Homo sapiens: one gene and its partners. The gene in region 1 interacts genetically with each later gene. Each region holds a gene or a part of one and is shown in the gene's direction. Other genes may lie near its edges.

What was found.
Region 2: changes in ELOF1 (region 1) and AHCTF1 together harm fitness more than expected from each alone (negative genetic interaction), as found in Homo sapiens cells (one large-scale study listed by BioGRID).
Region 3: changes in ELOF1 (region 1) and PAX6 together harm fitness more than expected from each alone (negative genetic interaction), as found in Homo sapiens cells (one large-scale study listed by BioGRID).
Region 4: changes in ELOF1 (region 1) and SUPT6H together harm fitness more than expected from each alone (negative genetic interaction), as found in Homo sapiens cells (one large-scale study listed by BioGRID).
Region 5: changes in ELOF1 (region 1) and RPRD2 together harm fitness more than expected from each alone (negative genetic interaction), as found in Homo sapiens cells (one large-scale study listed by BioGRID).
Region 6: changes in ELOF1 (region 1) and DHX35 together harm fitness more than expected from each alone (negative genetic interaction), as found in Homo sapiens cells (one large-scale study listed by BioGRID).
Region 7: changes in ELOF1 (region 1) and INTS12 together harm fitness more than expected from each alone (negative genetic interaction), as found in Homo sapiens cells (one large-scale study listed by BioGRID).

What each region holds. Positions count from the first base shown.
Region 1 is NC_000019.10:11,556,431-11,560,379, reverse strand, and holds the start of ELOF1 (transcription elongation factor 1 homolog), read left to right. Parts: upstream 1-1,149; 5' UTR 1,150-1,189; intron 1,190-3,949. UniProt on the Homo sapiens protein: Factor involved in transcription-coupled nucleotide excision repair (TC-NER), a mechanism that rapidly removes RNA polymerase II-blocking lesions from the transcribed strand of active genes.
Region 2 is NC_000001.11:246,841,774-246,844,948, reverse strand, and holds part of AHCTF1 (protein ELYS), read left to right. Parts: intron 1-1,020; coding exon 1,021-1,154; intron 1,155-2,172; coding exon 2,173-2,255; intron 2,256-3,175. UniProt on the Homo sapiens protein: Required for the assembly of a functional nuclear pore complex (NPC) on the surface of chromosomes as nuclei form at the end of mitosis. May initiate NPC assembly by binding to chromatin and recruiting the Nup107-160 subcomplex of the NPC.
Region 3 is NC_000011.10:31,788,526-31,791,424, reverse strand, and holds the end of PAX6 (paired box protein Pax-6), read left to right. Parts: intron 1-564; coding exon 565-715; intron 716-1,100; exon of another isoform or gene 1,101-1,405; coding exon 1,406-1,491; coding exon of another isoform or gene 1,492-1,795; 3' UTR 1,796-2,399; downstream 2,400-2,899. UniProt on the Homo sapiens protein: Transcription factor with important functions in the development of the eye, nose, central nervous system and pancreas. Required for the differentiation of pancreatic islet alpha cells.
Region 4 is NC_000017.11:28,660,925-28,665,004, forward strand, and holds the start of SUPT6H (transcription elongation factor SPT6), read left to right. Parts: upstream 1-1,280; 5' UTR 1,281-1,418; intron 1,419-1,692; exon of another isoform or gene 1,693-1,761; intron 1,762-4,080. Other genes in the region: SDF2 (stromal cell-derived factor 2), read right to left, coding at 802-952.
Region 5 is NC_000001.11:150,363,009-150,366,946, forward strand, and holds the start of RPRD2 (regulation of nuclear pre-mRNA domain-containing protein 2), read left to right. Parts: upstream 1-1,138; 5' UTR 1,139-1,706; coding exon 1,707-1,911; intron 1,912-3,938.
Region 6 is NC_000020.11:39,024,844-39,028,343, forward strand, and holds part of DHX35 (probable ATP-dependent RNA helicase DHX35), read left to right. Parts: intron 1-386; coding exon 387-516; intron 517-3,500. UniProt on the Homo sapiens protein: May be involved in pre-mRNA splicing.
Region 7 is NC_000004.12:105,698,690-105,702,189, reverse strand, and holds part of INTS12 (integrator complex subunit 12), read left to right. Parts: intron 1-1,918; exon of another isoform or gene 1,919-2,175; 5' UTR 2,176-2,184; coding exon 2,185-2,340; intron 2,341-3,500. UniProt on the Homo sapiens protein: Component of the integrator complex, a multiprotein complex that terminates RNA polymerase II (Pol II) transcription in the promoter-proximal region of genes.

The sequences.
Region 1 (3,949 bases):
ACTTGAGGTCAGGAGTTCGAGACCAGCCTGACCAACATGGTGAAACCCCATCTCTACTAAAAATACAAAAATTAGCCAGGCATGGTAGTGCGCACCTGTAATCACAGCTACTTAAGAGGCTGAGGCAGGAGGATCGCTTGAACCCGGGAGGCTAAGGTTGCAGTGAGCCCATATGGCGTCACTGCACTCCAGCCTGGGCGACGGAGCGAAACCCTGTCTCAGAAAAAAACAAAACCAAAAATAAAAACCAATAAAAGTCCTTGGCCGGGCGCGGTGGCTCACGCCTGTAATCCCAGCACTTTGGGAGACCGAGGCGGGTGGATCGCGCCTGTAATCCCAGCACTTTGGGAGGCCGAGGCGGGTGGATCACGAGGTCAGGAGTTCAAGACCAGCCTGGCCAAGATGGTGAGACCCCATCCCTACTCAAAAAAAAAAAAAAAAAAAAAACTACAAAAATTAGCCGGGCGCGGTGACCGGCGCCTGTAATCCCAGCTACTCGGGAGGCTGAGGTAGGAGAATCACTTGAACCTGGGAGGCGGAGGTTGCAGTGGGCCGAAATCGAGCCACTGCACTCCAGCCTGGGCGACAAAGTGAGACTCCGTCTCAAAAAAATAAAATAAAATAAAACAAAAATAAAAAATAAAAATCCTTAACACGGCCCACGAGGCTCCATGGAATCTGGCCCCAGCCTGTCCACTCAACCTCATCTACTACAATCTGGGCACTCAAAATGTGGTCTGCGGATCAGCAGCATGGAAGTCACCTGGGAGCGAGTTAGAACAGCAGCCTCTCAGGCCTCCCTCTTCATCTGCTGGATCAGAACTTGAACTTTTTAGTTTGAGTAGAGCGTCTTCCATGCTTACAAGCTTCCCCTTCACCCTGATTCAGCCATAAGGTTATTTCATATTCCTCACTTGCCGCTCCTGGAAACTGACCAGAAGTACTGGCATCGCGCGTAGGTACAGGCAAATACGCACCGGCTCTTGCGCAGGCGCACTGCGTCTCCGTCGGAGCGCTGCTATTTGAGTACGCGTGCGCTCAGAGGAGCGGCGAAGGAGGCAGGGCCTATTTGCTGGGCTGTCCGGGATGGGGGTGGCCGGGACCTGAAAGTAGGAGAGGGGTTTCCGCTTCCGGCAGGAGTCGGAAGTCACTATCTCCCGGGTGAACGGAGCTTTCGCAGCTGGAGAAGGTGAGTGCTGGTGCGGCTCGTGCGAGTGGGCGTTGGGGGTGGGCAGGACTGGAAGTTCCTCTACTCCGTGCGTTTACGGGGTCCTGGAGGAGGCTCCTGGGACCTCGAGCTTGGGGGAAAGCCGGTCGGGGAGACTGACTCCCCCCGACCCCATCCTTCCAAGCGCGACTACCGGGACGCCTGGCTCCTCCCGGCGGCCGTCGGGAGGCGATGCCGAAGCTTTAGTGAGTCTGGAGGAACAGCCAACCCCCCACCTCTTGGGTACCAGCAGATTCGGGGGATGACTCCTCTGCCATCCCCTTTTGGCGCTCTTGGACTTAACGTTGTCACAGGACAGGCTGAGGCCTCTGCATTCCTTGTGCAAGCCAGACCCCATTCATGGGATGGGGAGACTGTAGTCCCTGGGCAAAATGAGCTTCTGGGGCTCATCCGTAGATTTTGTTTGGACTTTTTTTTTTTTTTTTGAGAGTGAGTCTTGCTGTGTCGCCGAGGCTGGAGTGCAGTGGCGCGATCATAGCTCATTGCAGCCTCGACCTCCTGGGCGCAAGCTTCCCACTTCAGCTTGCCGAGTAGCTGGGACTACAGACTCAAGGCTAATTTTTGTAATTTTGTAGAGATGAAGGGTCTCACTCTGTTTCCCAGGCTGGTCTGGAACTCCTGGCTTCAAGCGATCTTCCCACCTGGGCCTCCCAAAGTGATGAGATTACGGGCGTGACGTCCCAAAGTGATAGAGTTACAAGCAAACTGATTGAGTGATTTATTCAGTAATGGTTATTGCTGGGCACGGTGGCTCATGCTTGTAACGCCAGCACTTTGGGAGGCCGAGGCGGGAGTATCTCTTGAGCCCAGGAGTTCCAGACCAGGCTGGGCAACATGGTGGGTCCCTGTCTCTACAAAAAATACAAAAATTAGCTGGGCGTGGTGCCGCGGCTAATTTATATTTCAGAGGTAGAGGGGCAGGGGGAGGATCGCATAAGGAATGTGTGAGGGAAAAAGACATTGAGGATGAATCCAAGGTTTCTGATTTGATTATCCGGAAAGATGGAATTGCTGTTAGCTGAGATGAGGAAGACTGGAAGAGCAGGTTGCAATGTCAGGGGCTTGGTTTTGGACATGATATGTTTAATCTTAGGTGGAAGTTAGACATCAGGTGGAGGTGTGGCTGAGGCAGATAGATCAGAGTCTGCAGTTCAGACTCAAGGCTGGAGAAGCAGGTGGCCTCAGTGTAGAGTAGGCATGAAGCCCTAAGACTGGGTGAAATCTTCATGTGGTGAGTATAGCCAGAAAGGAGAGGATCCAACAATTAAACTCATGGGCTTTTTGCTCTGTTGCCCAGGCTGGAGTGCCTCGGCTCACTGCAACCTCCGCCTCCCAGGTTCAAGTGATTCTCCTGCCTCAGCCTCCCGAGTAGCTGGGATTACAGGCGTGCACCACCATGCCTGGCTAATTTTTGTATTTTTAGTAGAGATGGGGTTTCACCATGTTGGTCAGGCTGGTCTCGAACTCCTGACCTCGTGATCTGCCCACCTCGGCCTCCCAAAGTGCTGGGATTACAGGCGTGAACCACTGCACTCAGCCTTTTTTTTTTTTTTTTTTAGATGAAGTTTTGCTCTGTTGCCCAGGCTGGAGTGCGGTGGCACAATCTCAGCTCACTGAAACCTCCGACTCCCAGGTTCAAGCGATTCTCCTGCCTCAGCCTCTCTATTAGCTGGGATTACAGGCATGTGCCACCACGCCCAGCTAATTTTTGTATTTTTAGTAGAAATGGGGTTTCACCATGTTGGCCAGGCTGGTCTCCAACTCCTAACCTCAAGTGATCTGCCCACCTTGGCCTCCCAAAGTGCTGGGATTATAAACGTGAGCCACAGCGCCTGGCCCAAACTCACGTGCTCTCTTCATTGGAGCAAGTTGGCAGAGAGGCAGGAGCATAGGAGACTAGCAGGAGCCACCAGTGAGGCAGAGGACAGGGAGCACATGGCATCCTGAGAGCCACATGTGCTCTCAGGGGAGGAAGGACCTCTGGAATGGGAGGACTGCCATTGGGATTTGCAGTATGGAGCCACCAGTAACCTAAGTTTGGAGGCAAGGGGTGCAGAGAGATGGGTGGGAATGCAGATGGCTGTACACTAAAACAGCCTGCAGAGAAAAGGATCATAGCTGGAAGAGGATGAAGAGTTTTTTTTTCCCCCTTTTTAAATGAGGAGAGAGGTAATAACAAGTGTGTGAGAGTGATCCAGTGGAGCTGGAAAATTTGATGTTGCTCAAAGAAAAGGGGATGGGAGCCAGGGCAGAATGAACAAATTGTTTTTGCAGGAACTTACTTCCATAGTAAAGGAGGCATGCCGAAGCTGGGCATGGTGGTGCACACCTGTTGTCCCAGCTACTGAGCAGGCTGAGGCCAGAGGATTGAGGCTTTAGCAAGCTGTGATCATGCCACTGCACTCCAGCCTGGGCAACAGAGCAAGACCTCATCTCTTAGATAAATAAAGAGGGTGGGTGAATGGCTGAATGAGTTGGTCCTAGGAGCTGTCTTTGGATTGCTTCTATTTACTCAGTGAACTGGAAGCATCACAGTTAAGAGTTGGGGGTGTTGGCTGGGCGTGGTGGCTCACGCCTGTAATCCCAGCACTTTGGGAGGCCGAGACAGGCGGATCACGAGGTCAGGAGATCGAGACCATCCTGGCTAACACGGTGAAACCCCATCTCTACTAAAAATACAAAAAATTAGCCACGCGTGGTAGTGCATGCCTGTACTCCCAG
Region 2 (3,175 bases), on another chromosome or scaffold:
AAGTTACTTGATTCTGGTCTCACAGTAAGTCCAGAAGCTGGGATTTACTCCGGCAGACTGGTTAAACTGAACTGTGCTCGTCTGTAATTATATTGATAATTGCTTTTAATATGGGGGCCCTATAGTTAAAAAAAAAAAAAAAAGTCTGTGTGGTAAATGCTTTTAATTCCTTATTTTAAACCAATTGTTGTTTAAACCATTTTTATTTTTCTATGGAATATCTTCCTGTTAGCTTTTCACTCTGTTACCCAGGCTGGAGTGCAGTGGCACAATCATGGCTCACTGTAGCCTCAGCTTCCCAGGCTCAGGTGATCCTCCTGCCTCAGCCTCCCACGTAGCTGACACCACAGGCGTGCACCACCACATTGGCTAATCTTTTAAAAATTTTTTGTAGAGACAGGGCTCTCACTTTGTTGATCAGGCTAGTCTTGAACTCCTGGCCTTAAGCCGTCCTCCTACCTCAGCCTCCCAAAGTGCTGGAATTACAATTGTGAGCCACTGCACCTGGCACTTTCTCCTTTTGTGGAGATGAACTTTTCTGTTCCTTTGGCTGGAACAAGTAGTTCAAAATGAGGTGGCTAGAAAGATTTTCTCTTTTTTGAAAATAAAAAACCTACTTTGTAAATAACGTCTCTGCAATAGCAGTAGTTATGGCACAGACTAGCTCAGGTTACATATAGGATTAATGCTTTCCCTCCCCAGAATGCTTGAGGAGCAGTACGGATTAAAAGAAATAGACTAAACAGTTCTGTACCTGCTTTCATGGCCTGTCTTTATATTGTAGCACTTTTTAGTTTGAAGCATTCAATCGTCCTACACATTTGGCTTACCCAAATGATGCTGGGATTTTTCTGTCGTTTCTCTGCCAACATGGATACTTAGGTTGCAATACTAATGGTTTCCAGGTTTGGGGACGTTTGCATCTTTCTAAAACACATAATTTGTTCCAGGTTTTTATTGTGTTTATATATATACACACATATATAAAGATACAGATACAGTTTTTTCAACTTTTTTTAGCTAAAAAAATAGAGGTTCCTGCACAGCTGAAAGAATTAGTTTCGGATTTATCTTCTCAGTTTGTCATCTCACCTCCTGCTTTAAGGAGCAGACAAAAAAACACATCCAATAAGAACAAGCTTGAAGATGAACTGGTAAGAAATGCATGATTTTATTTGTATGTTTGTTAAAACATACTTTTTTTTTTTACAAATGTTTTAATAAAATTATTTTATTTAAATTTTAATGATTTTAAATTTTGTTTATTATTTAAATAAATGTCTTAAAGATAACAGTCATGCATACCAAAAGCCAAAAATGGTCGTATCCACCCCTTTGGAGGCCTCCTACCTTTAAGACACATCTGTGGTATGCTACTGATCATATTTTACCAGCAGTTACAGTTTAAATTACCTGTTTGTGGAAGGGTTTTTAAATTCTAGTGTCCATCAGAATTACCTGGGTGTTTTTTAAAGAAATAGTTGAGGGATTGAGTGCGAGTCCCTTAAGTTTATAAATGTTAATTCATAAGCATTTATTGAATTATCTGCCATGAGTCTGCTACTCTGCAAGGGCAAATTACACAAGAATAATTCAGGCAAATTCCTTGTCTGTCAGGCACCTACAGTTCAACTGAGATACACAGTTTCATTGAAGAGATGAAAACAATTACTTCAAATACTTTATAGACCGAGGTTAGAGGAGACAGGCATTCCTCCCAACAGAGTAAATGGCAGACGCAAAGGCTCAGAGCATGGCAATGGCAGGCAGATGAGGAGTGTTCATTGTGAATAGCCATGTGTGTATTACAGGTAGTCTCTATGAAAGATGAAATGTGGGTAGGAAACAATAGTCTCTGGTTGTCTACTTCTTAGAAAGTGAGAGCCTGGATCTGGACAAAGGGAGTGGGTACAGAAGGGCAGTAGACAGTGGAAACATTCAAAAATAAAACTGATGATAACTTGGAGATTAGTTGAATTGTAGGAATGAGGAATAAAGAACAGGCCTGCATAACTAAGGTTTCTACTAAAAGGTATGAGAAAAGGAGTCAATTTTGCATTTGGCGAGTTTGAATTCATCAGTGTTTGGCTCTAGTATTCCTTGTCTCAGGATAGAAGTTTTAAAATTGGATTCGTGTTTAATACTTAACCTTTTAAAATGTTTAACCCATAGAAAGATGATGCACAATCAGTAGAAACTCTGGGAAAGCCAAAAGCGAAACGAATCAGGACGTCAAAAACAAAACAAGCAAGCAAGTATGACTTTCTGTTCTGTTCTTGATTGATTGATTGATTGAGACAGTCTCGCTCTGTCCCCACCCTACTATCCTCCTTTTATTATTTTATTTTATTTTTATTTATTTTTTTTGAGACAGAGTCTCGGTCTGTCACCAAGGCTGGAGTGCAGTGGTGTGATTTCGGCTCACTGCAACCTCTGCCTCCCAGGTTCAGGTGATTCTCATGCCTCAGCCTCCCAAGTAGCTGGGACTACAGGTGCCCACCACCACACCTGGCTAATTTTTGTATTTTTAGTAGAGACGGCATTTTATCATGTTGGCCAGGCTGGTCTCAAACTCCTGGTCTCAAGTGATCCGCCTGCCTTGGCCTCCCATAGTGCTTGGATGACAGGTGTGAGCCACTGCACCCAGCCTTGTTCTGTAATTTTTATCCATTTTTTTCTCAAAATTAGATTTGAGAAGACCCTTAATTTTACGAAAAGGAAATTAAGCTCATCAGAAAAGATTATCGGGCATTTACAAGCACTGGCTCCCTGGCATTGTTAGATTTCACTGCTGAAGGTGGATTTCTTTATATATTAATAGCATGAAAGCCCAGTCCTTTTAAAAGGAACATGGGAGGTCGGGCGTGGTGGCTCACGCCTGTAATCCGAGCACTTTGGGAGGCCGAGGTGGGTGGATCACGAGTCAGGAGTTCAAGACCAGCCTGGCCAAGATGGTGAAACCCTGTCTCTACTGAAAAAAAAAAAAAAAAAAATTAGCTGGGCGTGGTGGTGGGTGCCTGTAGTCCCAGCTACTCTGGAGGCTGAGGCAGAATCACTTGAACCCAGGAGGCGGAGGTTGCAGTGAGCCAAGATCACGCCACTGCACTCCAGCCTGGGTGACAGACTGAGACTCTGTCTCAAAAAAATAGATAAATAAAAATAAAATAATAAAAGG
Region 3 (2,899 bases), on another chromosome or scaffold:
GTTATATTTACTAACACTTCTGATCACTTTAACTTGGGGTCATTACAGATCTGCTTCTTCAAAGAATCTTTAATCCCATCAGTGAAAGGTTCCCAAGGTCCCTGAACCATACTTTACTGAGAGCTCCTCCCACTGCTCTCTGTCCCAAAGCTTGAGATATGGGCTCTGGGGGTCATAGGGTTCCCAAATAAATCCAGATTTGCAGGGAGAGGGGATGTGTTTTGATGAAGGTCCTCATGCTATAGGTTCTTCAAAGATGCTAGCAGAGGTTAGAGACAAAAATCCTATTAATTTATGGATAGTGGCAACCATCTAGCTGGACAGTTGTCAGAACCTAAAGTGCTTTAGAGGCTTGATACATAGGCAGCTTTCTTCTAGCTGTGGCCAGTGGAAGGACTAGCTCGAGGCCCAATCTTAGATTTATCATATGGAATTCCAGTACTTCACGTGAAGGCATCTTTAATGATCAGACTTGTTGGCAGAGTTCCTCGGGAGGAGGGAGCCTGGGGCTGTGGCTGTGTGATGTGTTCCTCAGTAACCACAGGTTTGCCTCTCTCCTCACAGCCCCCAGTCCCCAGCCAGACCTCCTCATACTCCTGCATGCTGCCCACCAGCCCTTCGGTGAATGGGCGGAGTTATGATACCTACACCCCCCCACATATGCAGACACACATGAACAGTCAGCCAATGGGCACCTCGGGCACCACTTCAACAGGTGAGCCACTGCTTTCTGCAGGCTGCACAGAGGCGATCTCTCTTCACTAGAAGTTTACCCAAACAGAATCTCCTGGTCTTATGGGAGGGCGTGTTTAACTCCTTGCTTTCCTTGTCCCTGGGGGATGGGGATTGAAAAGGGAAATTCAGTTAAGCTAATTAGTAACTTTACACCATATAGACAAAAACTAAAATTGTTTTTCCTGAATTTGGTCACAAAAGTTGTGTATGAAGACAAGGCCTGAGACTGCAAGTTTTCTGAGGACAGATTATTAGACGAAGCTCAGTAGGGGGCCCACTGAGCTGTAGGTGCGTGCTTGTTGAAATGCTTCTTGCCCTCATAGCTCCTCTAGACCTTTTGCTGGAAATAAAAAGTGACACATTGGTTTTCCAGAGACAGCTTTATTGTAAAAGTTCCAAACATGCAAACAAACAGAGGATTTTTTTTTTCTTTTCCTTTGGATTGGGGTGGGGGGTACTTGGGATCCAATAGGTATATATACATATATTGTCTAGTTTCTGAAGGTGCTACTTTTATTTGTAACAATTGAAGTGATTTTAATACAGTAAAAAATGTTAGAAAGTATTAGTTTTTTTTTTTTTTTTTTTTTTTGTAAACCTATAAATTTGTATTCCATGTCTGTTTCTCAAAGGGAATATCTACATGGCTATTTCTTTCATCCACTTCTAGGACTCATTTCCCCTGGTGTGTCAGTTCCAGTTCAAGTTCCCGGAAGTGAACCTGATATGTCTCAATACTGGCCAAGATTACAGTAAAAAAAAAAAAAAAAAAAAAAAGGAAAGGAAATATTGTGTTAATTCAGTCAGTGACTATGGGGACACAACAGTTGAGCTTTCAGGAAAGAAAGAAAAATGGCTGTTAGAGCCGCTTCAGTTCTACAATTGTGTCCTGTATTGTACCACTGGGGAAGGAATGGACTTGAAACAAGGACCTTTGTATACAGAAGGCACGATATCAGTTGGAACAAATCTTCATTTTGGTATCCAAACTTTTATTCATTTTGGTGTATTATTTGTAAATGGGCATTTGTATGTTATAATGAAAAAAAGAACAATGTAGACTGGATGGATGTTTGATCTGTGTTGGTCATGAAGTTGTTTTTTTTTTTTTTAAAAAGAAAACCATGATCAACAAGCTTTGCCACGAATTTAAGAGTTTTATCAAGATATATCGAATACTTCTACCCATCTGTTCATAGTTTATGGACTGATGTTCCAAGTTTGTATCATTCCTTTGCATATAATTAAACCTGGAACAACATGCACTAGATTTATGTCAGAAATATCTGTTGGTTTTCCAAAGGTTGTTAACAGATGAAGTTTATGTGCAAAAAAGGGTAAGATATAAATTCAAGGAAGAAAAAAAGTTGATAGCTAAAAGGTAGAGTGTGTCTTCGATATAATCCAATTTGTTTTATGTCAAAATGTAAGTATTTGTCTTCCCTAGAAATCCTCAGAATGATTTCTATAATAAAGTTAATTTCATTTATATTTGACAAGAATATAGATGTTTTATACACATTTTCATGCAATCATACGTTTCTTTTTTGGCCAGCAAAAGTTAATTGTTCTTAGATATAGTTGTATTACTGTTCACGGTCCAATCATTTTGTGCATCTAGAGTTCATTCCTAATCAATTAAAAGTGCTTGCAAGAGTTTTAAACTTAAGTGTTTTGAAGTTGTTCACAACTACATATCAAAATTAACCATTGTTGATTGTAAAAAACCATGCCAAAGCCTTTGTATTTCCTTTATTATACAGTTTTCTTTTTAACCTTATAGTGTGGTGTTACAAATTTTATTTCCATGTTAGATCAACATTCTAAACCAATGGTTACTTTCACACACACTCTGTTTTACATCCTGATGATCCTTAAAAAATAATCCTTATAGATACCATAAATCAAAAACGTGTTAGAAAAAAATTCCACTTACAGCAGGGTGTAGATCTGTGCCCATTTATACCCACAACATATATACAAAATGGTAACATTTCCCAGTTAGCCATTTAATTCTAAAGCTCAAAGTCTAGAAATAATTTAAAAATGCAACAAGCGATTAGCTAGGAATTGTTTTTTGAATTAGGACTGGCATTTTCAATCTGGGCAGATTTCCATTGTCAGCCTATTTCAACAATGATTTCACTGAAGTATATTCAAAAGT
Region 4 (4,080 bases), on another chromosome or scaffold:
TTTAGTCTGTTTTTATTATATTGTAATTTTCTTGACTGATTATCACCACCGAATCTCCTGTATGTAGTACAATTCTAGCCATGTAGTAGGAACTCATTAAGACCTATGCTGAATGAATCCACAAATAATTTATTACTAAACATTTTAATTTCAAACGCTAAAAAAAAAAAAAAAAAAAAGCAGTTTTCTCTGCAATTCCTGTCACTGCTCCAAGTTTCTTACAAGAAGGAGGTTAAGGTTTGGGTAGAAGGGGGCCAAAGATGGAAACTGAGGAGCAAGTGTAAGATGCAGAAGAGCTGGAAGACAAAGGGTTGTAGTCAACGAGTGAGCTCTTGGAGTTTAAAGTTTCACAGACAGTACTTACTGTAACTTTAAAATTTCAGACACAGCACTTACTGTAATTTTCTTGTCTCTAAAGCAGGCTTTGAACCTGGATAGATTTGGATAGAACCCCGACTTTGTCATTTGCTAACTGCAAGGCTTTGAATAAACGATTTAATTTCTCTGCGTCTGTTTCCTCATCTGTGAAATGAGGATAACAATACTGTCCACCTTACAACAATGTTAATAATCGGAAAAAGGACATAGGTAACGTGCCTGGCCTGTAGCTCACCAAATATTAGGTGGTGTTGCGATTAAGATGCCTTAGAACAATTCAGTTCTCCGACTCTCTAGACCTGAGGAACCTTCCCAGGGAACCCCTAACTTTCCCAGACCACACTGTCAGATATTCTATAGGCCCCGCCCCTCCAGAGCCTCCGAGTCCTCCCTAGCCCACCCGAGCCCGGTCCCCAGCATTACCTGACCCATAGCGCACGTCGTGTGAGTGCAGTCGGACGTTGTGGCGCGTATTGAGTAGCTTCACCACGGAGCCGCAAGTAACGACACCCAGGCTGGACGCTCCCACAGCGCTCCACAAACCCCCCAACAACAGCAGAGGTACTACAGCCATCCTAACTGTATCGCGGAGCCCCAAATCTTCGAAGAAAACTCGGCCCCTCCCCGGAACCGGAAGCTAATGGCGAAACCACGGAGAGAAGGAAGTGAAGAAGCCCGAGTCTGATCTTTATGGTTTATTTGACTAGAGCGGCCTGAGAAACCGGCTGAGCCTGGTTACTTACGATACTCTCGCTCTGTTCCAGGGGCTCAGTGACAGCTGCCTTCCTGAGCCGCTTCGGTTACCTTTCGCACCCACGAGACGAAAGCTTCCGAGAGCGGGAGAGAGAACAAGAAATGGCCCGCCCACTCCCGGTGACAGGGAGCCGGAAATGACGTAGCACGTTGACGCAGCAGCGGCGGCGGTGGCGGCGGAGGGGCCGTGCGGTGGGTCCGTACTATCTTTTCCCAGTCTCGGTTCGACGACTCCATTTTCCTCGGTGGGGGCTTAGCGCACTGGAGGAGCGGCGGGCTTCAGACAGGTAAAGTTCCGACTGGAGAGCGTGTTTCTCGCAGGAGTCAGGTGGGGAACCGGGCTCCTAGGGCCTGGTCACGTAAGGGAAGAGGCAGTGGGGAGCCGTATGCGGGAAGAAGGGGGAGCCTGGCCTTCCCTGCTCTATGGGGGGAAGGGGGAGGAAAGCGCTGTAGTTGCTCAGAGTCCGAAAGCTTTTCCCAGCCCAGTGACACCCGGAACCCGTGAATCGGGTGGCACGTTGAATCAACAGGCTTCCTGGCATCCCGTCCTTCTCTCCGCAGGTTTTTAAAACTGGGCCACGCAAAAGGATTGGGGATGGAAGGGACCTGGGGCTTCTGAGCCAGGATCAGGTGATCGAGTTGTTTGTTCTGGGGATATGAATCCTGTGGAGCTTTCAGCAGCTCGGCCATCAGGCTAGAGGGCGATGCCAAATTCCAGCTCTTTACATATTGCTGAATAATACAAATAGAACTTTTTGTAGATGGTTGCATCCTTCATCCCTTTCTAAAGATCGAAGGTCTTGTAGAAGTCCTAAAGCCCGTCCATTCTCTATAGATTCATTTCCTCAAACGTTTGCCAGAGGCCTATCATGAACATCAAAATTAGTTATTAAGTCAAAACTCCATCTTCTAGTTTCTACCTTTCTCCTCAGGCACTCCTTTGAACCAGCTGGAGAAGTTAATTTTCCTGGGTTGTTGCAAGAACTGATACTTATTTCAGAGGGCTAAGATCTCTGAAAATACTTCCGTGGAAATTCACTGTAATATCAAAAGTAACAAGGGTGTATGAAGCTACATCATTAATGAGCATTAGGGAGTGTAAACAATATTGAATTTGATTAATTTCTTCGGAAAAATGTCTGGTTCCACTGTTTATCTGGAAGTTACCAGTTTGTAAGTCTTCAGTGTTTTGATTACAGAAACATAACTGCTCTTCCATCAGCTGTGAATTTAGAGCCCTTTTTTACGAGTAATGTCCCTTTCACCAGTACAAGTACATTTTTATTCACTTGGCTTGTGTGGCTGCTAGATTGGATTAGCATAGCCTTGCAACTCTAGGAGGTTTTAACTTCATCAGGAGATTAATTACATCAGAAAGTGGTACCGTCTGGAGAGGCTTAGTCAAATTTTACAGTTCTTCCTCTGAAAGCCTACCTAGTGTGGTGGAAACATGATCTTTGTAGGCAAATACGTTTGCCCTGATTCTATATTCTTGACCTTAATAAATGGCACTACCATCAGTCCTGCCTGTAATCCTTGTCTTCCTTCCTGTCCACTATTTCCCAATAAAATCAGTCACCAAATCCTGTCTCTCCCTGAAACTGTTCCCATCAGCATACAAATTATGTTCTGGTATCCTTCACATCCCTCTCCAATTACCATGCCAATTTTTTAAATTTCCATTCATAGATTTCTACCTGTACCAACTCAGCTTTCTCAACTTTCATTCACTCTTCATTTTATACCAATCTGGCTTCTCTTCTGCCCACTCCATTTTTTTTTTTTTTTTTGTGGAGACAGGGTCTTGCTCTGTTGCCCAGGTTGGAGTGCAGTGGCCCCATCATAGCTCACTGCCACCTGGAACTCCTGAGCTCAAGCAGTCCTCCTGAGGCAGCTTCTAGTAATCAAGTGCCACCACATCTACTTTGCCCACTCCATTGAAGTTGCTCTTATCAAGGTCACCAGTGACTTCTATGTTGCCAAATCCAATGGATACTTTGTTCTCATATTCCTCTGTCTCTGCAATATTCAACATAGTTACTCCTGCCTCCAAACTTTCATCTTGGCTTTATTGACATTTCACTCTTGGATTTTCTCCATTTCTCCGGCTGTTCCTTCTGAGTCTCATTTGCTAGCAACTTTTGCTCTCTATCTAATGTCTAAATGCTGGGGCTGGTCGCAGTGGCTCATGCCTATAATCCCAGCACTTTGGGAGGTCGAGGTGGGCAGATCACTTGAGGTCAGGAGTTCACAACCAGCCTGGCCAGCATGGTGAAACCCCATCTCTACTAAAAATACAAAAACTAGCCGGGCGTGGCGACACGCCTGTAATCCCAGCTACTTGGGAGGCTGAGGCAGGAGAATCACTTGAACCAGGGAGGCAGAGGTGCAGTGAGCAGAGATCATGCCACTGCACTCCAGCATGGGCAACAGAACAAAACTCCGTCTCAAAATATATGTATATCTACATATGTTGGAATTCTCACAGGAATCCCGAGCCTTCTACATGCTTCCCTTTAGGTAACCCAGCCCCATGGCTTTAATTACCACCTGAAAGTTGGCAACTCCAAAGTTTAAATCTCTAGTCCAGCCCTCTCCTCTATGTTGCAGAATCACGCGTCAAAAATGCCTGTTTAATTATCTCCATTTGGATATTTCTTAGGCACCCAAAGCTAACATAACCAAAAGAAAGTTTTGGTTTTCTCATCATTGCAAACCTTATCCTCCCGTTTCACTGAGTGGTGCTCCTATCCGCAGGGTTACCAAAGATAGACCTCTGAGAATCATCTTTGTTCTTCTCCTTTACTACTCCTCTTCCCCAGTCTTTCAGTAAGTCTTGTCACTTCCACTTGCAGAATGTTTTTGTAATCTGTCTTCTATTCTCCATCTTCACTTTTACCACCTTATTCCAAGCCACCACCATCTTTTGCCTGGGCTACCACAACAGTA
Region 5 (3,938 bases), on another chromosome or scaffold:
TCTTATACTGGCGCGTGCGTGCCGTGCACACGTACACACACGCGCGCACACACACACACCCCTTTCTCCCTTACCCTGCTTCACCTTTTTACAGAATTTAATACTGTCTGAAATGTACTTGTTGGTGGTGTCCTGCCACTAAATCCCGGAGGGAACGGATTTTTGTCTGTTTTGCTCCCCATGATCTAAAACAGTACTTGGCACAAGAGGTTCAACAACTCGTTGAATTAATGAATAGTGGACATGAACTTGACAAAACAGGTTCCCTGCCTCAAGAGGCATGGCCGCAGTGAGGAGACGTTAAAAGAATTAAAACTGTATATGTTTAGTGGGAACACAGGAGCCTTTAAATTAGCTCAGAGGATTTACATAGATACCTGCGATAAAATGGTTCGTATAAGGTTCATATAATAGTTACGTAAGACTCTTGAAAACTGTAATGTATTATGCAATTTTAAGATTGTATCATAGCTGGCGAAAATGAGGTCACATCTTGCCATTCTTTTTTCGCCTCGAAAAATTTTATGAGGAAAATTTCCTTTCACTTCCTCATTTATTTCCTTTTCCTGTAACCTAAATGGTCAAGCGGCTGTGAATGTTATCTTCTATGGGCAGCAATAAATACGGTTTGGTGTCGGAGTCTGCGTAGTGAATGGCTCACTGGATCTGGCGCATGCGCATCTTTTGTGGTGCCGCAAGATGGCTGCCAGCCATTTTGTCGCGCGTTGCTCCTCCGAGGAGTTGGGGGCGATGGCTGCAGCCCCCTGAAGACTAACAGTGGTCTCAGTGGTGGGAATTTTCTGTCTCTGTTGTGTGAGCTGAACACACCCAAGAGAGCGGCCAAAAGCAGCAAAGGGCGGGGCAGGGGAACCCCCCCACCCGGCTAACCTTAGTTATACCAGCTCCCTCACCCATCCCTCCCAGTTTTTCCTTCCATCCCGTTACACGCTTATCTTCTGCGCAGGCGCAAAAATAATCGTAGCGCCTCCTGGGCCCTGGGGGCTTCAGAGCTCCTGCGCGCGCTTGTGGTTCTCCACTCCTGATTGGTCAGGTTGCCCCGCCATCACGCCTCCCTCTGCTTTCAAGGTTGAGAAGGAAGCAGGGGTAGGGGGGTGGGGCCAAGTGGCGCGTGCGCGATACTGTTGCTGCCCCTTTGCTGCTATTGCGTTGCAAAAAAAATCCTGACTAGGTAGCCTTGGACCTTTTCTGTGCTAGCGAGTCTAAAGGAAAGAAAGATTTCTGCAACTGAAGGGGCAGTCGGGTAGTATTACATTTAAGATATTAACGCCCGACCTGGCTCACAGGAGTGTGGGAACAGGGGCGGGGAAGGGCCTTAGCACTGAGAGCCGAAAAGTATAAAACGATTAGTTTCGGCGTCAGGCGTTTTGAAAGGCTTTGCAGGTCCTGTTTTCTGCGTAATTTTTCCGTGATTACTGACTGGTTTAAACACGACCCCTTGAACAATATTGATAAAACCTCCGAGACCCGCAGCCCCTCCTTGCAGCGTGTAGGAGCTGCCAGCGTGCCCAGCAGCTGGTGTTCCCGTCCGTACCTCCAGAAGAGCCCAGCGCGTGCACCATCCCCACCCCCTAGCTTCCCTCCCCACCTACGGCTTTCACGCACTCGCAGTGATTGTTTTGCCCGCTCCCGCCGCCGCCGCCGCCGCCGCCGCCAGAGGAGCAGCAGCGCTTGTGCAAACCGGGAAGATGGCGGCCGGCGGCGGCGGAGGCAGCAGTAAGGCCTCCTCCTCGTCGGCCTCTTCGGCAGGGGCTCTGGAGTCCTCGTTGGATCGAAAATTCCAGTCGGTAACCAACACCATGGAGTCCATTCAAGGCTTGTCGTCTTGGTGTATAGAGAACAAAAAACACCACAGTACTATCGTCTATCATTGGATGAAGTGGCTCCGGAGATGTGAGTGTTGGGGGTGACTAGGGAAGGGAAGACTGGGGAAATGGAAGGAAGTGTGGCCTGAAACGCTTGGGGTTTTCCCACGGAGCCGCAGCATTTGGTTGGGGTTGTTCACATTAAAGGTTTGACCCCAGTGGTCCCAAACCCAGACTCCATTCCTAGCCAGGATTGTCCTGAATTGCAGGAGACTCATTTCTTGGGTTTTTTAGCCATTGAATTGTTGTGACCTTGGGCCGTTGGGCCCAGATCCATGGAGATTTACGTATATTGTTTTTAATATTTCAGAGCCTTGTAAGGTGTATTGATTTTTCCGAACCTTCGCGGAAATTGTAGCGTCTGTTTATTTCTTACAGGCCTTGACGTGTTAATGATTTCTGGCTTTCCTGATGGTAGGCGAGCTGTGGTTTTAAGCAGTAGTAAATCCAGTGATGTTTAATGAGGAGTGCCTTGTCTGGATGAATGTATCTAAAACTTGTGATGTGTAGTAAGGAGAGCCTTACCTGGATGAATGTTAAGAAGCAGCATGAGCTCTACATAGATCTGAGGCACCACCGGGTTTTCCCTGTACCTGTGTTTGCTGCAATAAAATACAGGTTTCTTGGATACTGACCAGAAACAACTGCGATACAGTAGTCAGTATCATCGTTAATACCTTCAAATATAAAGCGTGTCCAGTTCCTCTTTTTTTTTGAGACGGAGTTTTGCTCTTGTCGCCCAGGCTGGAGTGCAGTGGCGCGATCTCGGCTCACTGCAACCTCCACCTCCCGGGTTCAAGCGATTCTCCTGTCTCAGCCTCGCGAGTAGTCGGGATTACAGGCGCCCGCCACCATGTCCGGCTAATTATTTGTATTTTTAGTAGAGACGGGGTTTCATCATTGTGGCCTGGCTGGTCTCGAACTCCCGACCTCAGGTGATCCACCTGCCTCGGCCTCCCAAAGTGCAGGGATTACAGACGTGAGCCCCCCGTGCCCGGCCCCGTTACTTTTTAATTACCTGAAATACCTTTTTACACAATTGAGTTGATCTCATGGGTAATGTGCACAGGAAATGTGCTTTTTGAATATGTAGTACCTTTTTCTCCAGTTATGTTTTTTTTGTCTTTATCCTGGAGATTTTTCCATTTTGCTGCTTTACTGCAGAAACGAGCTCTGTTAAAGCATGGATTGTTTGCAGAACGTTTCAAATCTTATAGGAGGAAGTGTGGAGAAGTTACTGTTTCCTGCTGAGAAGAGAGGGTTAACTCATACTCCATATACATCTATTAGAATTTTTCTTTGCTTCCTGCCTGCGGCATTTCACCAGTGAGACCCATCATCCAGTTATTCTGCCTTATTCCACTTCTGCCATTGCTCCTGTAGTGTTTTGATTTGTTTACCTTTTAGAGAACAGATAGATAAAACTTGCAAAATTATAGGCCCCATGCTTCGAACTATTTGTGTTTAAAGTTTTGGGAGGGATGTTTTGTGGTTCTTTGAATAATAATGCAGAGAAATTAGTAGATACCGGACAGAATTACCTGTGTTTACCAATAACCGATCAAAGAGTTATTTTCTTGCCCAGAGGTAAAATTATAACGTGCAAAAACATCAAATATGATAACAGTCATCATTGAAGACTCACATGTTAAGTATCTGCTATGTGCCCAGTCATCTCATTGTACCTTAAAATCGTCTGAGAAGTAGATTTTTTAATCACTGATTTACAAACGAGGAAACTAAGACTCGGAAATTAAGTTGCTTAAGGTTACTCAGTAAAATGGTGGGGTTAGGGTTTGACTTCATCATTAACTTTGTAAAATAATGTTTAACGTTCTTGGTATACCAGTGATATATTGCAAACAGTTCTAATGTGAGTGAGAGAACCTCTTCTCCACCCTATTTTAAAACATTTTTACTGACCTATGCAAGCATTTTACATTTCCTCACCTTGGGCTCTGGGGCTTTAACTGTATGGTTACATCATTTGCAAGAATAAGTTGGTCCCTGTCCCGTCTCTGCTGTGTGGGATCACAAGCGACAATTACAGTTTTT
Region 6 (3,500 bases), on another chromosome or scaffold:
TGTCATATTGTTGGCTTCTAGTATAATAAAGTGATACATTCAAGCATGCCAAAGAAGAAAAGTTGATTTACAAAGAACCACGTGGAGAAATGGTTCTTTCTGATAGTTCACATCTCATGAAGGTATGTAAGATTGAAACCGTTTCTGCGTGTCATTAAGTTCTCATTTGCCCTTTAGTGTAAAGAGTGAGGTTGCAGAGCAGTCAGATGTGTGCAAGGTTGTTAACATCTGTTTTGAGAGATGGGGCAAAAAAGGGCCAGTTCCCATCTTTAGATCTTATGCCGTTGAACAGCACATGGGGGAAGAGAGAAGAATGATCTTTACAACATAGCCTTAGTCGAGAACATATCTGTTTTCTAACTCCCTCTCTCTGGGTTGTTCTGTAGCACAATAAGGACTCTAAATGGTGTCAGGAACATTTCCTGAATTACAAGGGTCTTGTCAGAGCTGCGACTGTAAGAGAACAATTGAAAAAGCTTCTTGTCAAGTTTCAAGTGCCCAGGAAGTCTAGTGAAGGTGAGAAGAAACCGTCCCAGCTGGTGACCTCCCTTGCTTCATTCTGTTGAGTTGTCTTCCTAAAGTTCTCATGCTGGGCTGGTGCGAGGCAGTGTGGCGTGCTCTGTACCAACACTGGGTTTTATATTTTGAGTTGCCTGCATCTGTGAAAAGCTGAAGGTCAAGTTGCGTATTTTTTCCAAGGAGGTCTATTTTTCTTTCTGATGGGCATTCTTACTAAAGGAATTTCATAGCCCATGACAATACTTAAGAATCACTAACAGTCACATCAGTGCACATCATGTCATTGATTTTCCCATGTAGGCTTTGCAAGAAAAATTACTTTTTGATCAGTGATATTAGTAGCTATTACATAAAAATTAAATTTTATATTCAAAGACAAGTATTATTAAAGCAAGTGCTGGATATTTAGCCTAGGCAGCCACTAAAGGTAAGACAGAAAAGTACTATGTAAGACGTAGTCTCTGGCCTCTAGCAGTGACAGTGACTACTATTAATCAGGGACACAGTAGGTTACGCTGTGGCAGGGGTTCTCCAAATATTCTCTTGCTCAATCTCGCACTCTGTGAGGTGTCGGTAATGTTATCCTCATTTTACAATTAGTCGTAAGATCCTAGGGAGAAGGTAGATTAAATTCAGGACCACGCAACTGGTAAGGAGGAGAGCCAGATCTGTATGTGGCTCAGAAGTCTACGCTTTTAAGGAAGTGACACACCCGCCTCAGCAGTCAGCCTGAAAGCCTAGTGTGCCAGGTACTCAGCCACATCCTCAGCACCATTAGTACTTGGTAACATTTCCTGAGTGCTTATAAGTGGCTAGACAGTGCACTGAGTGTTCCATGTGTTTATTAATTTAATGCTCACAACAACGCTGTGAAACGTGTGCTCTTTTCCCCATCTTATAGGTGAGAAAAGCGTGGCTAAGAGGTAAAATGTAACTTGCTGAAGTTACACAGTGAGGGTATGATGGAGTCAGAACCTGAGCCCAGGCGGTTCCATTTAAGTCTTCTTTTGTCTTTATACTAAGAGCAAGTGATTAAACAATGACGGAGTCTTGGCTTTTACTCTAAGGGAACAGTGTAATGAAGGGAGAGATTCATATGGATAGACAAAGTACTAAGATTATCAGTCCTCTTCGAAGTTAAAGTAGTAGATACTTTAGTAATCATAGAAGACGTGCTGGCAGATGTGGAAGGAATGCCGGGAAGAAGGAATCCAGAGAGGGCTAGCTTGGGAAGTCTTTCAGCTTCCTTGAGGTGTGGTGGGAGTCCGGTCAAGCTTTGGGGTCTGGTTGAATTAGAAAATGGTGGCAAAGAGCACTCTAGGGAAGGAGGACTGGAGACAAGTGCTTGGAGTGAGGAGTATATGAGACGCTCAGAGAATATTTGATGGGTGAATACACTCACGAGAGAGGGAAGAGTTGAAACCTGGGCCATTGAGCCATGTTGGAGTCATTGATAGAAACAGGATGCTTACAAGGAGCACCTAGTTGGAGAGCAGCTCGTCAAACGCCTGTCACCCAGCAGGTAGATGACAGCCTTACTTCAGCAATTGGTGTTCTTCACCTGTGTTTCATTATCAGACCCCTGCCCAGGAGAAAAGTTAAATTTAAATTCTACCCAGCCTGAGAAATTAAATACTAAGGAATAAGATTTTGTAGGGTAGGATTGAGCTTTGGAGGGCTACCGGCCATTGTAGTGTCTAAGATGCTCCCCTCCCCCTGCCTCCAAGAACCAGTTTCCACCCCTTTGGAAGTGATATCACCCCTGTTTAGAGTGCATATTTTACATGGAAATTTCTTATGGACAATAGGAGAGAAGAGACTGGATATCGGATTAGATCATATTTAGACATGTAGATTTGAGATTTTATCAGCTCAGTGCTTAGGAAAAATACAGAAAATCATGGAGACTAAATAAATTACATGCAAATTTAAAACATCTAAGGGTTAAAAAATAGAAAGCAATTAGTGAAAGATACTTTCAGCAGTCATGAGATAAATGATAAAGATTAAAAACTTTATTATAGAATGATTTTATTTAATATATTTAGGAAAAAACAGTTTTCAGGTTGATAAATGGGCTAAGGATTAGAACAAAAAATTCACAAAAGAAGAAATATGCCGATAGTAATCAAATAAATGTAATATAAAAGAAGGTAACAGAAGGTAACACTTTTTGCCAAAACATTGCTAGTAAGAATGCAGTGAAACTGCCATTTTTATATATTGTTGATGGCTTTGGAAATAGTACCACCTTTATGGAACTTACTTACCAACATGCTTTATTCCATTGGATCTAAGATACCATCATGTGTAAGAAACATCGTTATTTTATGTGTCACCAAAGAAAAAAAATGCTGCCAGTTATCATTGTAAAATGCTGTCCTAATTTCAGTGAATTAAAGTTAGAAAAAGAGCGAGTCTTAAAATTGATGAGATGTGATATGTCATTAACCATAAAAATAACATTAGCCTTTTGCACAACAATTTGGAATGTATCCTATGGACATCATCTAATAGTGGGGAAGCTTTATTCATGGAAGATGTTAGCTGTAGCAATAGAAACACCAGTTAAAATGGAACATTTGAAAAATTTGAAGAATTACTTCAATTTTCAAACACTAGCTCATAACCACAGAAGTAACGTTGTATACTATCTCCAGTTTGTGTTTTATAGAAAGAACATTGTTGCCATATGACACTCTTTTACAAAGGAGTTCTGAGGTCACTGACCAGCCTGCAGAGCAGCACTCTTAGGTTCTGGTGCCCAGCCATGGTCCAGTCATCTGTGGCTTAGGGGAGGTTGGAGGGGTCCCAGGTTCAAGGAGCAGACCAGCATTGTTGTCAGCAGCAGTTGTGGGGAGTGGGACCTCCTTAGATGGTGCTGGGGCAGGCATCCAGCATTGGGAAGGGTAGGGCTGGAGCCATTTCAGGAGAGGGTTTCCAGGTGTCTTGAAGCAGCCTGGGGTGGTGCTGGGAGTGGA
Region 7 (3,500 bases), on another chromosome or scaffold:
CACTCCAGCCTGGGCGACAGAGCGAGACTCTGTCTCAAAAAAAAAAAAAAAAAAAAAAAGAAATAGAAATAAATTAAAAAGTTAATATTTTTTTCTCTGTATTCCACCATGGGGACCACTGGGTCAAAGGGCCATGTTAGTAATTTAGGGGAGGGGTACAAAGCCTGTTAAGTTTTATAATGGCAAGATTGCATAAAAAGAACTGACTCCAAGGTTCCAACTGGAATGTTGGTGTTGATGACTTCCGCAGTCTTGTAATCTAGGTGCTGACTCTTGTCACCTAATCTGTAATGTAAACCTCTTACCTGTGATTGTAGAAATACATAGCAATAAATACTTGGCTTTCATTTTTCAGCATAGAAATTTCAAGAAATGGTTTTTCTAATATATTACAAGGGTTCTTTTAGGTGTCAACCCTTTGGTCAGCACCCAATAAAATAAATTGTTTTATAACAATCTGGATAAGTAAACTGCTATTTCCTTTACCTATATGAAATAAAATCAGTAGAAAGATTAGTAAACTGTCACAGGAGTGGAATTTAAAGAAAAAAAAGAGATTAGGCTGTTACCCTTGTATATGCTGGGGGAATGGCAGGTTTACCCTTTTAATCTTGGAAATTTTATTAAGGAGCTATTTTTTCCTCAGAACGTACATGGTGACCAGCCCCATGAGTAAATTTTAAAATAATTTTTCTGTACCTATCATTATGTAGAGGTGATGTATATAATAATATAATTTTAAGAAGTGACAGAGGCTGCTTTTCAATTTTGTTAAATTCTTAGAAATACAACAGTTTGAGATAAGGTTACTTTTTCATTATAGTACTGGCCTTTGGATTCCTTTCCATGGGTGATTCAGATGATATTTTAGTACAGTACAGAATTCGACAGTAATTTTGTAGTTATCAGGTAGATAACTAATACCTTCCTGGGAACTTAAAAAAAAAAAAAAAAAAGCCTAGGGATGTGTATGTGTGTTTCTTGTCAGATGTGGAGAAGGATGAGGAGTGAAGCTGGAGGGGAGGGGACAACAAAATCCATTTTCAGATGTGCTTTCATATGCTAGGATTCAACCTACAGCAAGTTTTAATGGTGTTATAAACCCCTGAAAATGGGAGATAACTGTGGAATTGCTGACAGTTCCCTAACTATAGCAATGCAAGTGTGCTGCATTAATACAATATTAACCTCAAGGATAGAAGATTTCAAGCCATAGTATATTGATCAAAGGATTGAACACAAAGAATACATTTTTATTTTGATAATTTCTTGCCTGGAGAGGTCTTTGAAAAAGTGACAACCAGAAGCAGAACCACATGATAGCATTGGTATTAACTAAAAACAAAACTTTTTAGTATTGTGGAATTTCATAAGCCTTTGATGTATATCTTTATCCATCTTGGCTATTTTTTAAGCTCTTTAGGACACAAAGCATCATAGGCTCTGTGTGTGTGTGTGTGTGTGTGTGTGTGTGTGTGTGTGTTTTAAGTAGATATGATATTATCCCTCAGAGACCTTACTTTTAAAAATAGGTTAATGCATGAGATACCACAATCTAAATGTGATCAAATAAGGTTATCATTAATATGTTTTCTGAGACATTTAGGGTTGGGGCAGAGAACTGAAGAGGTGAGTTTAGAAAAAAAAAAAAAAAGAGTTGAGGTAAAAGTGGCAGCAGTGACCATGATAGCTAATCACTTAATATACCTTTTCACCATTGCCCTCTTACGATAGCCCTTACACACACAAACACCTGCACACTAAGTCTTCCCTTGTGTTATGGAAATAAGGTTTGAGAGAAGAAATTTTGATACAGAGTAAACTTGACGTAAACCCATCAAGTTCTATGTACTGAAACTGCGAAGTGTATCTTTTAAAACACAGTTAGGAAGGAGTTCTGTGGCAGGGAGAGGCCTACCTGGATTTAAAACGTTACCATCGATATGGATACACAGAAAACTGATACTGCTAGTTGTTTCAGGGGGAAGGAACTAGATAATGCCTGTCAGGAATAAGAAGGAAATTTACTTTTATTTGTAATAACTTTTTGGTGATTTTAAATTTTATATCATGTGTACAGTATTATCTATTACAAATTAAAAAACAGAAAAGTAAAACTTTAACATAGATAATTGTGCATTGTCTTCTAGATTACTTTCTCTTTTTTTCCTTCAGGCGTTTGCAATGGCTGCTACTGTGAACTTGGAACTTGATCCCATTTTTTTGAAAGCACTAGGTTTCTTGCATTCAAAGAGTAAAGATTCTGCTGAAAAGCTAAAAGCACTGCTTGATGAATCTTTGGCTCGGGGCATTGATTCCAGTTACCGTCCATCTCAAAAGGTACTTGAATGAATAAAAAGCTTGGAGAGAGTTTTGTAAGGCCTGTAGTACTACATTGATAACATATAGACCATCTCAAAACAATCTCTGCCGAAATAATCTTTCCTTGTAGCATGAAGAAATTATATTCTTTATTTTCTTTTTTCCCTTCAAGTTTTCAGAGAACTGTTACACCACATAGAAAAATCAGCTGGGGGTGCAGGATATTCTGTTCTACTACTTTATGTGTATATGAATTCACTTGTTTACGACTTACTTTAATTTCCGATTCTTTGTGATCAGAATTTTTTTTAAGCTGCTGAATGTAACCACAACTTACTTCTAATTATTGCCTAATATTTTAAGGATTAAAAAAAATCAAGTAAAAGGACAGATCTTTCAACAAAATAAATTGAATATGGGTAGGATAATTTAAGAGAAAAGGAGGTATGGATGAACTCTGAGAACTGTGTAGCTCCTGTCTTGATAATAACAAAGCAGCCAATGGCAGCTTTATGTGAAAAGAATATATGTTTTGATACCAAACACACCTGTTTTAAATCCCACTTAAATCTTATAATTGTGTGATGATAATAGACAACGTATCTTGATGTCCCAGGCACTTTTCTGAGTAGTTTATGTGAATAATTAATTTTAATTATGATAATGATCCTTTAAGATAGATAACTGTTTTCTTCATTTTACATAAGGAAACTGAGGTACATAGAAACTTCATTTCACTTAGTCTGTTTATTGGTAAAATGGGGATAATAAGAACTACTTTGCAGAGTTGTAAAAATTGAAGGAGATCCAGTAAATGAGTTACCTAGTGTAGTACCTGCCTGGTACATAATAGGCTGTCACTGAATGACAACTCTTATTATATTCCCTAATACCTACTAAGACATTCTATCAAATCCTTCTAAGCTCTGACCCTCAAACTCCAAATCACTCAGGTCTGTGGACTTAGATCCCAAACTGAGAAGGAGAAAATAGAACATGACTAGCTCAAGTCTAACCAGAATCTGAAGCTCAAGAGAGGATCTAGTCCCAGGCTCAGAGCCCAAGTAAACACTGGCATTTTGTCCCCAGCCTTCTTTCAATACTAGGTCTAGTACTCCGAAGCCTTTTTATTGTATTTTGAATAGCAGAACCATTGTGACTTCATTTCTTCTATCCAT